Linked DNA regions of Homo sapiens. The protein of the gene in region 3 interacts with the protein of the main gene of each other region in a pairwise test. Each region holds a gene or a part of one and is shown on either strand. Other genes may lie near its edges.

The links.
Region 1: the proteins of FAM9A (region 3) and ESRRG interact in binary tests that used the Homo sapiens proteins (3 or more experiments, as listed by UniProt).
Region 2: the proteins of FAM9A (region 3) and ZNF775 interact in binary tests that used the Homo sapiens proteins (3 or more experiments, as listed by UniProt).
Region 4: the proteins of FAM9A (region 3) and ARPC3 interact in binary tests that used the Homo sapiens proteins (3 or more experiments, as listed by UniProt).

What each region holds. Positions count from the first base shown.
Region 1 is NC_000001.11:216,503,281-216,507,035, forward strand, and holds part of ESRRG (estrogen-related receptor gamma), read right to left. Parts: coding exon 3,659-3,755; 3' UTR 1-3,658. UniProt on the Homo sapiens protein: Orphan receptor that acts as a transcription activator in the absence of bound ligand. Binds specifically to an estrogen response element and activates reporter genes controlled by estrogen response elements.
Region 2 is NC_000007.14:150,382,224-150,385,978, reverse strand, and holds part of ZNF775 (zinc finger protein 775), read right to left. Parts: exon of another isoform or gene 3,156-3,755; intron 2,179-3,155; exon of another isoform or gene 1,988-2,178; intron 1-1,987. UniProt on the Homo sapiens protein: May be involved in transcriptional regulation.
Region 3 is NC_000023.11:8,798,584-8,803,122, forward strand, and holds the start of FAM9A (protein FAM9A), read right to left. Parts: upstream 2,801-4,539; 5' UTR 2,728-2,800; exon of another isoform or gene 2,657-2,727; intron 1,627-2,656; 5' UTR 1,589-1,626; coding exon 1,498-1,588; intron 512-1,497; coding exon 383-511; intron 1-382.
Region 4 is NC_000012.12:110,443,689-110,447,443, reverse strand, and holds part of ARPC3 (actin-related protein 2/3 complex subunit 3), read left to right. Parts: intron 1-1,892; coding exon 1,893-1,992; intron 1,993-3,755. UniProt on the Homo sapiens protein: Component of the Arp2/3 complex, a multiprotein complex that mediates actin polymerization upon stimulation by nucleation-promoting factor (NPF).

The sequences.
Region 1 (3,755 bases), on a different chromosome or scaffold from region 3:
TACCATCATCCTGAAAGGCATAATAATTTGAGTTACACATCTGAACTGATTGGAGTTACAGAATCATATCTCCTTTTTGCATTTAACAATATATACAATATAAAATAAATACATTTACACAAATGGACATTTGCTGGAGCACACAGTATGGTACACATCACAAAAATATACAATTGATTGCTTTACAGATGTGAAGCCCATCTACAGCTATAGACATGGTTTTATTATTATTATTATTATTTTTACTACTGGCTATAATGCAACTCCTGGATTATTATAAGCAGTTTAAATTTTTTGTCCTTTTACGATCTTTGCACATAAGACTGCCATAAAATGTTTTCCTAGGCAGGTAAACAGAGACGCTTAAATAATTAAAATACAATCACCAACACCCATTTTCTCTTCTATAAGAAAAATAGCAGTTTTAAATTTTTTATATCTTTTATGTTATCATTTAAATGCAAAATAGTGGAATAAATACAACAATCTGATCTGATTGAAACACAAGTGTAACTACAAGGAGTCACACAATCATATTGCTTTAAATAAGAACGAACCTAAAAGAAGCAAAATTAAAATTAAAATCATATGGCTAAAACATACACCTTTATAACTTTCCAAAACTTCACATTAAGTAAATGGTCTTGCTTGAAACTTGAGAAGACTTCCCTCTAGTGAGGTTTAAGATGAGCATTTACCCTAAAGCCCGTGCAGTTCTTTTTAAATCCACGTTTTAGTTTTATTTCCTATTTGTGAGATACTTACTCTTTTGTAATGCTGAGAGTTACTTAAACTGAAAACTAAAAAATTGTATCTCATTCTTTGAACATATCTCCATCTCAGGTTTTCAGTTGGTTGGCTCTTACTTCTGAAGCCCAAGTACTTTAATGTGATACAGTGAAAACAATGTATATATTGTATATATTTTATTTATATATAGTGTAGTTGAATAGTAGCAACTTAAACCCTGCACAAACTTTCTGGAAAATAATCTTTTTAAACACTTACATATATAAATAATCTTATAGAATCAGCACCTTTTTTCCCAGGAGTTGTATTTTCTGTTGTTATTTTTAAAGGGATGTGCCAATTTCTGAACTCCTATCACAGCTATAAATTTCAAGTTATTGACCATCTGAATGAATTGCTAATGATGATTTATCTAGAATCACACTACAGTCACTTCTCTACTGAGAAACCACAATCTACAATATAGTCCCATATAGCTAATGATAGATACACAGTATTCCTAGCACTGGGTTGATGTTTCATCAACCCAAGGTATTTTGTTTAAAGCACACAAAGTAGCAATAGTTTTGGAAACGAATCTGCACCAAAAAGTTTTGCAACAACACAGAGCGAGTTAATAACAACATCTGAGAGATGATTGAGTGAAAGCCATATATACAGCATTTAAAAATTAGACTTATCTATATTCTTGAAATATTCAAAGTTTTATTTCTAAGCTATACATTGGTATTCTATAATAAACCATTAGAGAAATTATTCCTTGTTTTGAAAATATTATTATGATTTTGATGTGTATCTGTTCATAATGAATACTTGTTTGGAGTTTCAATCTCTTAATTATTATTAGGAAGAACCTTATTACTGGTAAGGAATAGAATATACTACTGTAGTCTCCTGAGGAATTGTACATCCAATATTGTCTCTAATTCTACCCTGTGTCTAAAAGCACACACCACAAGAATCCAAACACCACAAGAACAAGACAACAGTCTTTGAATGCAACATAAAATTCAGAAAAGCACAGCAAACATGAAACATTGAAAAGCTGAACTACATTTCTTTTGTTTGTTAGGATTACAATTTTAATTACATCTGTGTACATAGAATAAGACTGTTCACATAATACAGGGAGCAGCTACTAACACTGGTCCATTGGTATAGCATTTGATGGAGGTTACTGTTTATTGGTTATTCAGCGACTGTAGATTTCGGGGCATCTAATTGATTTCTTCATTAGATTACACCTCTTAACAGTCTGGAACCTGACTTGACTTTCATGCTGTGACAATACTGGTTGAAAAGCACATATATTGGCTTAGCTCTTGGTAAAAACTGCAGATTAATTTAAACGAACATTCCTAAATGAATAAACTTATATGGATTAGGTTTTAGAATTTGGTCAGGCATTTTCTGTCTTTGATGATTTTTTTTTTTAATTCTGGCATTTGCCTTATTGCCTCTTAAATGAATACTGGCTCACAGCTCCTTCTGAGGCAAGGTCTGTGACTTTGCAAACAGGCAGTATCACATTCCTAACCACCATGGCAGCTAGAAATCATATGGCAATTGTACCTCCCAAGTAGAGAGGTGCACTCCTGACAATTCTACGGATCTATATCTCATGTGCAGTGCTTATATATGTGACTACTCAGAGTCACTGTAGGTGTAATCTCATCCTTTGTGTCAGTGAACATTTAGGTAAACTGGAGCTCATGTTAAGAAATTGATGTTTGGGACCAGACTGGCACACAACATAAATTGCATCCGTGATAATATGCACCTTCCCTTCAACTATTGCTTGAGTAAGTTAAATTCCCATATTAATAAATGGCTGAAAAGTGGTAAAGCTGGTACAAAAAAATCTCCATTTGTAAGAAGAAACAAAACATTTTTAAAAATCTTCCTTCAGGATTCATTTGTCCTTCATTATTGTTCGTAATTGTTCAAAGCCAGCACAAAATTGCAGTATTCTTATTTCTCTTTAGTATTGCATGAATGAATAAAGCTTAAACTATTCCCTGAAAAAGTTACATAGTAGCTAAACTAACAAATACCTGGAAGACTTGAAAAAACAATTAAGGAATCAAATGGCTGTAACTGATCTAGATGGAAAAGCAATGATAAGAAGCAGCCGATGCAACGTTGCTTAAGTTGTCTAATTAGAGGCTGCTCCCATGAAATCTAATACTGCACTCAGTCAATTTGTATATGTTGCACTGTACTTTTAGGAACGTTGGTTCTCTCTCTTTGATTCCTTAGTCATTGGGGACAGTATGGTTCACAATAAGTTCACTGGCATCCATATTATGGATCTCCATCCTTTGGCAGGGCTGGCTTCCATCTCTCTTCAGTTAGAGACCTCTTTTAAAAGTTCAGCAGCAGAAGGAAGAAAAAGAAAGATGGAAAGAAGGTCAAGAGGAAAGGAAAGGAAAGGGAAAAGGAAAGGGAAAAAGGAAAGAAAGGGAAAGGAAAGGGGGAAGGGAGGATTTTTTTTTAAACTAAAGCTATTTCAAATTTAGAAAAAAGGGGAAGGATGAGAAAAGAGAGGAATGAGAGTAGGTAAAGAAAAGAAAGAAGGCAGGCAGACGGGAAGAAAATAAAGGAGAATGGGAACTAGGAATGAAAGAAGCAAAGAAATAAGGGAGGTGAAAGAAGAAAAGGAGAAAAAATAAAGAGAAAGAGAAATGTGGGAAGAAAGAGGAAAGAAGATGATGGAGAAAGTAGAAAGAAACTCATCAGGAACCTATGGAGGAATCTGAAAGCTGCTTCATAGTCTTGCTGCTAAATTATCAGTGCAGTCTGTTGATTTTTGATGTTGTTAACTAAACTCTAAGTTTCTTCGACATCACTCTTGGGTTTATTTTCCCTTTTTCAACATGAAGGATGGGAAGGCCCAGGGAGCTTTTAGTCAGACCTTGGCCTCCAACATTTCCAAAAAAAGTTTGTGCATTGGGACTTTGCCTTCTAGTTTGATGTTGTAGAAATGCTGCACGGCCTTGGTAGAG
Region 2 (3,755 bases), on a different chromosome or scaffold from region 3:
CTCAAAAAAAAGCTAAATAAGCCTTCTGCCAACATTACAACCCAGGACTGTCTTTCCCAAGGTCCTGGGGGCCATTTCTTTGAAATTTAAGTATCAAGGAAGACATCACCCCTGCCTCCCAGTCTCCATGGGAGGGTAGGAGCCTAATTTCAGCAGGTGCCTGGCTCCAAATCACAAAACTATCTCCTGTCATAAAAATATAAGAACTTTATTTTTCCTGTGGGTAAAGGCAATTAGCTAACACAGATGGTCACTCCAATTATGAGGTGAATTTAGGACGACCTGCCTGCGTGTGACAAATGGTAATGTCCAGTCCTCTTGCTGGAGGGCTGGTTGCTGTTTATCCTGAGAACATGTCTGTAACGGGCTGCACCTGCCGGCTACATGCAGGCTGAGAGCTTCCGTCTTTGCAGTTACTCAGGGATTGCAGGCTCAGAGCTCCCGTCTTTGCAGTCATTCGGGGTATTGCAGGCTCAGAGCTCCCGTCTTTGCAGTCACTCGGGGTATTGCAGGCTCAGAGCTCCCGTCTTTGCAGTCGCTTGGGGTATTGCAGGCTCAGAGCTCCCGTCTTTGCAGTTGCTCGGGGGATTGTCCATGGTGCGCACCACATTCTGGTTTCATGCACATTCAATCTTTTAAAAGCTGTTTTTCTCTTCTACTTTTGCAAAGAGCTTTTCTGGGTTGGCAAGAGATTTTGTTTTCAATTCTATTTCCCCAACAGGGGCCTGTACGCATGCCTACCATGGTTTCTTACAGAACCTGCTTGTGGTGCAGAGAAAAGGCGAGCAGTGGGGAAGGGGGCGGGAGGAGCCCCTGGTGGGGCTCTGATGGGTGCTGGGGGCTCCTCCCTCCCTCGCCACCCTCCTCCCTTGGGGCCACTCTGTGAGCTTCTGCATGCCACATCTTGGGAAACCTCTCACCAACTGGACTTAACATCCACCTGAAGAGGCGCAGAGGGGCTAGTGGACAGAGAAGCCACCTTGGTAAGGGGAACTCAGACCGAGGAGGGCAGAGCCCAGGCCACAAATTCAGGAGGACAGAAGGATGGGCCTGGGTCTCCACAGAGCGAGACCCCCAAGGCAAATCAAAGACAGTCCTACTTCACCCACCCTGCCTCCCAAGAGGTATTAGGACCTAACAGCCACTCCAGGTAGTAGCAGGCCTTCCACTGTCCGGGACCTCCCAGAGCAGCTCCTCCCTCAAGCCTCGGTGCCTCTGTCTCGGGCCATACCAGGGCTCGAGGGGAAGCAGCCTGTGGCTTACGTAAGAACAGAAATGGAGACAGAAGGAAGAGGACCCAAGAGGAAGAAGTGAGAAATTCAAAGGGGGAAACACAGAGGACAGGAATGAGGGGAGGCCAAGTCTTTGGGGACCCGCCTCTACCTGTGTGCTCAGGTGGGCTATGTCTGGGAAATGGCACAGCAGGTGTCCTACAGACAAAATCCAGGAAAGCCCTCCATGTGTCATGTTCCAGGCTGGCCAGACACACACGTCCCCACCCTAAGCTTCTCTCCTATTCTGCCTTTCACTCTGCTCTGTGCATGGCGGGCCCCTCCTAACCTACCATCCTGACATGTCCTCAGCCACCTGGAGACACCCAGGAGCCAGGTGAGCAGGCTGCCCAGCAAAGCGCCCCGGCTGGAAGACAGGCATCAAGGGCCAGATGCGCCATCTCCCACCAGTGCCCACACCAAGTCTTGGAAGGCCGCTTTGTCTATCGCACAAGGGCCCCCGGGCCCCTACCGGACCACCTTTCCTCTCTGCTGCCCCTCGGGCTCTGAGGGGAGCAGGACACACAGGGGCCCCCTTCCCACGCCTGGCCCTGGCCCGGCCCTCCGCGCACCGGGTCAGGCTGCAGTTCAGTTAAGAGCCTCACAGTGGGCAGGCCTCAGCCTGGGCCCAGCTGCCATGACAACTGAAGACCAACCACACAAAGAGGGGATTGAGCTAGCAGCAGGTGGAGAGGCCCGGGGCAGGGGGAGGCAACAAAGGAGCTTTGGTTGTGGCAGAGACTTGGGGGTGGGGCGGCCAGACAGCAGCTGGGGGAGGAGAAAGGCCACAGGCCAGAAAGAGGCAAGGTCCTCCCCATCGCCGCCCCTGGAACCTCCCACCAGCCCAGCACAGCTCTCACAGCCTCAGCGCCCCAGGTCGGGCAGTCAGAAGCAGACCATGCCACAGGTATCATCTGCTGCTAGTGGAGCGGGAGCAGGATCCGCCACTAGGCGCTAAGGCTTTTGGGGGTGGGGGCAGCTCCCCAAACCCCAGCCAAAGGCCCAGTATCAGGCCCTTCTCAGCCCTGAGGTCCCAGCAGGTCCTCACTTGCTGGGCACAGCTCAGCTGGTCTTCCATAGGAGACCCCCACAGAAACTGGCCTCTCCAGTCCCAGCCCATGCCCAGCCAATGCCTCCCTGCCATGCTGCCCCTTTCTATAGCCTCATCCTTCTCAACTCCACCGGGTCCCCAGCGCCTCCCTGCCCTCCTGCAGCCCATACCTGACTGCTATGTCCTCACCCAGTCCTCTCTCCCTGTGAGACCCCTCACTCAGGTTAGCCCCAGGGAGCGGGGGCTTGCTCCCACACCTGCGCGTCCCTCATATGCAGAAGGTGTGTAATGTGTATTGAATGAATGAACGGATGAGTGAATGAAACAATGGAGGACCCAAGAGGTGGCTCCTCAGGCTCCAGTCTTCTGTCACTATTAAGAAATCCCTCAGGACCAGGCAATGGTATTCTCTGCCTCTGATTTCAGTTAATAGCAGATGTTTTTAATTTAAATATATGATCATAGGGACATAAGAAACTGATGTAAATGCTAAACCACACACAAACACACCCAGATACAATCATATCTAAATACAGCTAAGTAAACAAAAGTTCAAAGACACAAAACTACGTGAGAACACCTGCAAAACTGTCTATGCAAATACAGAGAATGTGAGATATTTTTTAAAACTCACAGACACACCTACAGATCCACAGACACACAAACGTGCCACTGTGAACCAGGGCAGCACGAATCACTGCACAGCACACTTAGGAACACAGAACTGCAAAGCCACCCATGACACAAGTATCCTTGTACACCCATGGCCATCCCATCAGGGTCACTTGCTCCGAGGAAAAGAACTCAGAGAGGTAGAAACAGAAGCAACATACCCTCATCGAGCCAGGAGGCCGGGGCCATAAGTCACCGTTGGATGACCTGCGCTGGGGTGGGATAAGTCAGCAGGAGCTGCAGCTGGCTGGAGAGACGTTACAGCAAGACAGAAAGCCCTAGAGACAATGAGCCTGTGTCCGGCAAGCCTGGTGCAGCCTAAGATCCTCAGGGCCTGGCCTGTGGGCTCTGGCCCAAGGGGATGCAGCGGGCCCTCTCCCCTTCAGCCATCTTTGGGTGACCCTCAGCCGCCACCTGGCTGGCTCCTCAGCCCTAGTCTCCCCCTAGAAGCCCACTGCCTGAGGCTGGCAGGGATGTCCTTCTCAAGGCCACCCTTCCTGGTCCCTCCCCTCAGGACCCCATGTCTTAATCAAGAACCCCAAGTCCCAGCCCACCCACCACTGAGCCGCTGCTAGTCCCTGGCCAGTCATTGCAGCGCTTTGAGCTCAGGTTCTTGAAGGCGCAGGTGAACGGAAATACCTGCTCCCTGAGTTTGGGAGGAGCACCACAGGGCGGCAAGCCTGAGCCGGATGCATCGGGCAGTATCTGTACAAGCCTCTCTGCCAGCGTCCCCGCTGCCACTCACTCCTCCTAAGCCATCA
Region 3 (4,539 bases):
ATTAAAGCTTTAAAGCAGAGCTATGCATGGAATCACTGGGCTCCGGACCGTTTTACCGAGGCATTTTTGGAAGCCCTTCCGGTTCAAGTCCTAGTAAACAACGCTCACAAGTCAGACCCCTTGGATGTCAGGACCGCATCCATGGAGAAGAGCTGCTCTGCGAGCATCTGTAACCCTGCTATGAGGGGGAGCCTCCCACGGGAAGCCTAAGGCCCTCGATCCTGCTTTGAAAACCTGGGGCCTCTTGGCACATGCACAATGGACTCCAAAGCCACGAAGGGGCCAGGGGTCTCGGGCTGCCCATGTGCCTCCCGCGCAAAGAGCAGACAGACCGTCCTCTTGGGCGTGCACCTTCTTTTCTGGCCCCTTGGGCTGTGTTTACCTGTGTGCTTCTTCGCCGGGGCGGCCCTAACTTGAGCTTCCAACTGAGCTTTGGCAGCCTTCCTGCTGCGCTTCCTGCCCACGGGCTCCATGGTTGGCTGTCCTGGGAAGTTAGAGGCGATCCCTGAACCTGGTTGAGTGCAAAGTCAAACTAAGTAAGCTAAGGAAACAGGATATGTGAAAGGAGAGCCAACGGGATCTCGGATTCAAGAAAGGGTGGGGCTGGCCCACCCCGTGTATCCTGTGGGAGCAGGAGGGGATGGAGAAGATGCCAGTGTCCCCTCCTATCCTTCCTGGCCCGTCCAGCCCCTCCCTGGGGCTGGCTGCAGAACTCACAGCTGCCTCGCACACCTGAATGGCCCCTGCAGGATCCTTGCGGTGTCCCTGGGACAGAGCTCAGCCCTGCCCCTGTGTGCCCCAGAGACCTGCGTGGCCCGGAGGACCACGGGTGCCACAGGACCTCCCCAGCCATCTCTGGGAGAATGTCAGGGGCTGCACTGCCACTTGCCTGCCTGGATGCCCAGGTGACCCCTCGTGACCCCAGGTGTCCTGTCCTGACCGGCGGCCGGGCTGGAGGGACCCACTCGAACTGTCCCCCACAACACCCCTGCTTGTCGCCTCCCCACACACTCCGCCCCTCCTCCTCCCCTTCCCCCATCCCCTCACCCCACGAACCCCACACCCCTCCCCTCCCCTGCCCCCATCCCTGGCCCCACACCCGGCCCCTGCCTATCTGCCACTCCCCCGACCCTCCCCCCTCTGCCACCACCCCTCCCTTGCTCCCCTCTCCACCACCTCCATTCCCCCAAGCCCCCCTCCCCTGCCCCACCCCTCCCCACTGCACACATCCACAAGTCCCCGGGACAATCCCGGGCCCTGGGGATCACTCAGGTGTCTCCAGCTCCCTCCCTGCCCTGGCCCATCCCAGCCCACCCTCAGGGCCTCGCCCTGACCCAGGCCCCAGGCAACGATGCCAGGGCCATTTCCTGCTTTGAAAACCTGGGGCCTCTTAGCACGTGCATGGTGGACTCCAAAGCCACAAAGGGGCCAGGGGTCTCGGGCTGCCCATGTGCCCCCCGCGCAGAGAGCAAACAGACCATCTCCTTGGGCGTGCACCTTCTTTCGTGGCCCCCTGGGCGGCCGTAACTTGAGCTTCCAACTGAGCTTTGGCAGCCTTCCTGCTGCGCTTCCTGCCCACGGGCTCCATGGTTGGCTGTCCTGGGAAGTTAGAGGCGATCCCTGAACCTGGTTGAGTGCAAAGTCAAACTAAGTAAGCTAAGGAAACAGGATATGTGAAAGGAGAGCCAACGGGATCTCGGATTCAAGAAAGGGTGGGGCTGGCCCACCCCGTGTATCCTGTGGGAGCAGGAGGGGTCGGAGAAGATGCCAGTGTCCCCTCCTATCCTTCGTGGCCCGTCCAGCCCGTCCCTGGGGCTGGCTGCAGAACTCACAGCTGCCTCGCACACCTGAATGGCCCCTGCAGGATCCTTGCGGTGTCCCTGGGACAGAGTTCAGCCCTGCCCCTGTGTGCCCCAGAGACCTGCGTGGCCCGGAGGACCACGGGTGTCACAGGACCTCCCCAGCCATCTCTGGGGGAATGTCAGGGGCTGCACTGCCACTTGCCTGCCTGGATGCCCAGGTGACCCCTCGTGACCCCAAGTGTCCTGTCCTGACGGGCGGCCGGGCTGGAGGGACCCACTCGAACTGTCCCCCACAACACCCCTGCTTGTCGCCTCCCCACACACTCCGCCCCTCCTCCTCCCCTTCCCCCATCCCCTCACCCCACGAACCCCACACCCCTCCCCTCCCCTGCCCCCATCCCTGGCCCCACACCCGGCCCCTGCCTGTCTGCCACTTCCCCGACCCTCCACCCTCTGCCACCACCCCTCCCTTGCTCCCCTCTCCACCCCCTCCATTCCCCCAAGCCCCCCTCCCCTGCCCCACCCCTACCCACTGCACACATGCACAAGTCCCGGGGACACTCCTGGGCCCTGGGGATCACTCAGGTGTCTCCAGCTCCCTCCCTGCCCTGGCCCATCCCAGCCCACCCTCAGGGCCTCGCCCTGACCCAGGCCCCAGGCAACGATGCCAGGGCCATTTCCTGCTTTGAAAACCTGGGGCCTCTTAGCACGTGCATGGTGGACTCCAAAGCCAAGAAGGGGCCAGGGGTCTCGGGCTGCCCGTGTGCAGGTCAGCCGGCCGCTCAGCGCTTCACACCCTGGTTGCGAGAGGGCAGCATGCTCGACTTCCTGCCTCCCTACCGCGAGCGCTTCACCTGCGCTTCACACCCTGGTTGCGAGAGGGCCGCATGCTCGACTTCCTGCCTCCCCACCGCGAGCGCTTCACCTGAGGGACCCCTGATGCCGCTTCCTCACAGAACCTGCAGGCACTGGCACCACGACGCTCTCTTAGAAAAATGGGTCCTCAGTTCTCGCGAGAGCAGCTGCCCTGGCTATCCACGCTCCTCTCTGATTGGTCAGCTAAGTGCGCATGCGCATGCGGGTGAAGGACCTTGGGGGCCACGACCCCTGCTGACACGCCTTCCCTCTTTCCGTAAGGGACCACCCATATTTGCTGTGGACTGGGGTGGGTGGTGGTTCTTTGGGGCCTCTGTCCCCAGAAGTTTTCAGCGCCTCCTCCTGGGGAGGGATGCAAGGACTCGGGATGGAAGCCAAGTGGACGGGGCCTAGGACCTCGCCCCCGAGCTCCTTCCAGCCACCCCTGCCCCTTTGGCTAGAATGGCCTTCGCCTTGCAGGTGGAGCCCAGGCTCCCTCCCATGCCCTGTGTGTTTCCACCATGTCCAGCTGCACCCTTTTTATCAATGGATTGTGCTTTTATGTTTTTTGCTTGCTTGTTTGTTTGTTTTGGAGACGGAGTCTCTCTCTGTCGCCCAGGCTGGAGTGCAGTGGCAAGATCTTGGCTCACTGCAACCTCCACCTCTCGGGTTCAAGCGATTCTCCCACCTCAGCCTCCCAAGGAGCTGGGATTACAGGTGCGTGCCACCATTCTCGGCTAATTTTTGTATTTTTAGTAGAGACGGGGTTTCGTCATGTTGGCCAGGCTGGTCTCGAAGTCCTGACATCAAAGTGATCCACCTGCCTCAGCCTCCCAAAGTGCTGGGATTACAGGCATGAGCCACTGAGCCCATACCCAAAGTCGTGTCTTTAAAGGCATCAACTGTATGATGTATAGTTGTTTCCAAGAAATGATGACTAAAAGGTACTGATTGAGAAACTTTTGTCATTTCTTTCTTCAAAAAAAGTCAACTAGTTTCCTGCTAGTTCTTGCCACTTAAGTTAGCCATAGAAATCCCAGGAGTGACCATCAGGTTGTCAAAGGCCTTTCTTCTTGTTGCTGTAAGGTTGACCTGCTGATAGTAACAGATACACCCCACTCTCGGTTATTTCAGGATCAAGTAGATCCATTGGCCATGGAGTGATGGTCTTTTCAAGTCAGGCTATTTTGAGAGGTAATAAAATATTCGTGTACTTTAATTTATTTCCTTTTGTACTTGCTTGTTTTAAAATACAGTTCTGCACATAAATATTTTTGACAAGATGAACAATATAGATCTATTTTGTCACATTACAAAACAAACAAATTATTAAGATAAGTCAACAATGACTGTAAGTAGAACATTGTATTTCGTTATTAATTTTCATTAGATTTCCAAAACATTTTTCTGTATAACATATTCAGATATTTTGAATTCAGCAATGCAGTCAGATGTTTCATGTAAGTGGCTGGGTGCAGTGGCTCATGCCTGTAATCTCAGCACCTTGGGAGGCTGAGACGGGCAGATCACTGGAGGCCAGGAGTTCGAGACCACCCTGGCCAACATGGTGAAACCCCGTCTCTACCAAAATTACAAAAAAAACTGGGTGGCACCACGCCTGTAATCCCAGATACTTGGGTGGCTGAGGCGCGAGAATCGTTTGAACCCAGGAGGCGGAGGTTGCAGTGAGCCAAGATCGCACCATGGCCCTCCAGCCTGGGTGACACAAGGAGACTCTGTCTCAAAATAAAATAAAATAAATAAAATAAGATAAAATAAAACATATAAGTGTTCTTATGTGATGATTATCTGAATTGTTTCTTTTTTCTTTGCTTTTATTCTACATGGGTATTACTTCACTTGTTTTAAAGAGTTGTGTGTT
Region 4 (3,755 bases), on a different chromosome or scaffold from region 3:
ATCGTACTACTTTGTATATTACTATATCACAGTGTCTTGCACATAGAAGGTGCTTAGCAATCATTTGATGAATGAATGAATATATGAATGGGACCCATGTTGACTTATAAAAAGCCAGACATCTTGTAAAAAGCAGAACTAAGAATCAGCATACAAAATGCTCTCATAAATGTGATTTTTTTTATCCCTTCCTTTAACACACACCTACCCACTGAAGGGAATATATATCTTCTCATTTTACAAATTTGGAAACAAGCTAAGAGAAGAAGAATGATGTCTTGGTCAAAAGCATAACGCCATGAAGTGGCAGAGCTGAAAAGATAGTGCTTGGGTCTTGGTTTAGCTGGGGGCTGGGTACCCTGATTTATATGATGTTTGTCTTTCTGTAGTGGAAATACTTTGGCCAGATACCAATGTGATGTCACCGAACATAGAATTGGAAGAGATGCACAGCAGCACCCCATTATTTAGTATTTCGTAATAATAACCTTAAGAACATAGACAATAGTAAAATGTAATTTTTAAAAATTAGGTTATTGCCGGGTGCAGTGGCTCACGCCTGTAATCCCAGCACTTTGGGAGGCCGGGGCGGGTGGATCATGGGGTCAGGAGTTCGAGACCAGCCTGACCAACATGGTGAAACCCTGTCTCTACTAAAAATACAAAAATTAGCTGGGCGTGGTGGCACGCACCTGTAATCCCAGCTACTTGGGAGGCTGGGGCAGGAGAATCGCTTGAACCCAGGAGGCGGAGGTTGCAGTGAGCAGAGATCGCGCCACCGCACTCCATCCTGGGCGACAGGGCAAGACTCCGTCTCAAAAAAAAAAAAAAATTAGGAAGTAGGCCAAGTGCAGTGCAGTGGCTCACATCTGTAATCCCAGCACTTTGGGAGGGCAAGGCGGGCAGATCACCTGAGGTCGGGAGTTCGAGACCAGCCTGGCGAAAATGGAGAAACATCGTCTCTACCAAAAATACAAAATTAGCTGGGCGTGGTGGCTTATCCCTATAATCCCAGCTACTCAGGAGGCTGAGGCAGGAGAATCACTTGAACCCGGGAGGCGGAGGTTGCAGTGGGCCAAGGTCATGTCATTGCACTCCAGCCTGGGCAACAAGAGCCAAACTCTGTCTCAAAAAAAAAAAAAAAAATTAGGAAGTAGCCAGGTGTGGTGGCTCACACCTGTAGTCCCAGCCCTTTGGGAGGCTGAGGCAGGAGGAACACTTGAGCTTAGGAGTTTGAGATCATCTTAGGCAACATGGTGAGACTCCTTCTCAAAAAAAAAAAAAGAAGTGATGAATACTTAAGCATCATTGTTTTTAACATTATTTACTTTTTTTTTTTTTTTGAGACAGTCTTGCTCTGTTGCCCAGGCTGGAGTGCAGTGGCACGATCTCGGCTCACTGCAGCCTTCGCCTCCTGGGTTCAAGTGATTCTCCAGCTTAGCCTCCCACATGGCTGGGACTACAGGCGCACGCCGCCACGCCTGGCTAATTTTTTATATTTTAGTAGAGATGGGGTTTCACTGTGTTGCCCAGGCTGGTTGCAAACTCCTGAGCTCAGGCAATCTGCCTGCCTCAGCCTCCCAAAGTGCTGGGATTACAGGCATGAGCCACCACGTCCAGCCAACATCATTTACTTAATTGTAAGTTTATATAATTTGATTTTTGAGAAGAGCTGTGTTTAACAACCAGCTTGAAAAATGCCTCAAAATTTAACAATTGGTTTTCTTGAGCCAGAAAGAACCAGCCCTCGCACCTCAATGCTGCTATCCCTTCTCCCTCCCCTAATTAATCTTGGGTGGTTTACTCTTTTTTTCCTTTAAGGGAAGGTTGTTTGCCACAGTGACATTTGCTCTTTTTCTGCTTCTGTGTTCTTCCTGGGCTTGCCATTACAGGCTTACCACTCTTCTCTCATGGATCCTGATACCAAACTCATCGGAAACATGGCACTGTTGCCTATCAGAAGTCAATTCAAAGGACCTGCCCCCAGAGAGAGTAAGTCTAAACCCATTATTTTCAAATTTTGGTACGAAATGCCTAACAATCTTCTGAAATGATCAAATCAGAAAAATTCTTAGCTCAGTCTTCTCTCTCAAATTGCCCTTGTACTTTGCTTGGTAGATACTGTGGTCTAGACCTTTCAAGATAGTGGTTATATGTTGCATTTAATAGGAAATTGTATTATTTCTTCTGACTTCTCCAGGAAACTCTTTTGAGAAAATGGAGGAAATGTGCTTAATTCTGGACACTGTTTATCAGTTCTTTCAAACAAATCTAATGCTGTTACGTCTAGAATGCCACATGCCCATCCTTTCTGTCATCAACCTGGAAAAGAACAACAACAAATATTTTAACCTCTTCCTCGTCTAAATCTACTTCCTTTATTCATTCTTCAAGATCTTCATTTTTAGCAATACCTCAATCTTAAATCTGAAGTGTACTATGTAACATTACTTACGTCTATTCCCGCTTTTCTGAATTTTATTTCAGAAAGCCGCAATATTTTTCAGACACTGTCTGAGACTCTTCTGATGCTTTCTGAGATGTTCTCCCAACAGTATAATTTGTATTATGTTAGACATGGTTTCCCTGTACCCTGCAAGGGTCTGAACTGAATTCCATTCATGGTTTCCAAGACCATTATTATAATTACCAATTTGGTACTTATCCAGTCCCCATTTCTCTGCCAGACTGTTTGACTTGACCTTTTTTAAACTTAATTTTGTTTTCAACACCATTTGAAAGCTCAGTAAACTTAATGCATATGGTGAGTCACCACAGTCTCTACTTGATTCTGAGGAAAAGGAACAAGGAAGAAGACAGCCTGGGAAAGAAGAAAAATAACATAAAAGAAAATCACAAGGCTGGGTGCGGTGGCTCACACTTGTAATCCCAGCACTTTGGAAGGCCAAGGCAAGTGGATCACTTAAGGTCAGGAGTTCGAGACCAGCCTGGCAAACATGGCGAAACCCCAACTCTACTAAAAATACAAAAATTAGCTAGGCATGGTGGTGGGCACCTGTGATCCCAGCTACTCAGGAGGCTGAGACAGGAGAATCGCTTGAACACAGAGGGTGGAGGTTGCAGTGAGCCAAGATTGCACCACTGCACTCCAGCCTGGGTGACAGAGTGAGACTTCATCTCAAAAAAAAAAAAAAATTTTTTTTCACTGCAAAGGCCAGGCGTGATGGCTCACACCTATAATCCCAGCACTTTGAGAGGTCGAGGTGGGTGGATCACCTGAGTTCAGGAGTTCAAGACCAGCGTAACCAACATGGAGAAACCCCATCTCAACTAAAAATACAAACAATCAGCCGGGCATGGTGGCGCATGCCTGTAATCCCAACTACTTGGGAGACTGAGGCAGGAGAATTGCTTGAACCTGGGAGGTGGAGGTTGCAGTGTGCCGAGATCATGTCATTGCACTCCAGCCTAGGCAACGAGCAAAACTCTGTTTCAAAAGAAAAAAAAAAAAAACCTGAATTGGAATGGAGGCCTGTGCTGTGAGCTAAATAACAGCATTAATCACACTAATTCATTTATATTCAACAAATATCTGTAGAATGCCTTTTATGTGCCAAGTATTCTTCTAATTTCAGAATCCTTTGGCCTTTGCCCCCTCCTGTCATTGCATTTAGAAGAACTAGCTGGTTTTTGGAAACAATATTGAGTCCTCCAAGACAGTTTTCTTTCACAGATAAGAAAACAGATTGCAGCCAGGCATAGTGGCTCACGCCTGTAATCCCAGCACTTTGGGA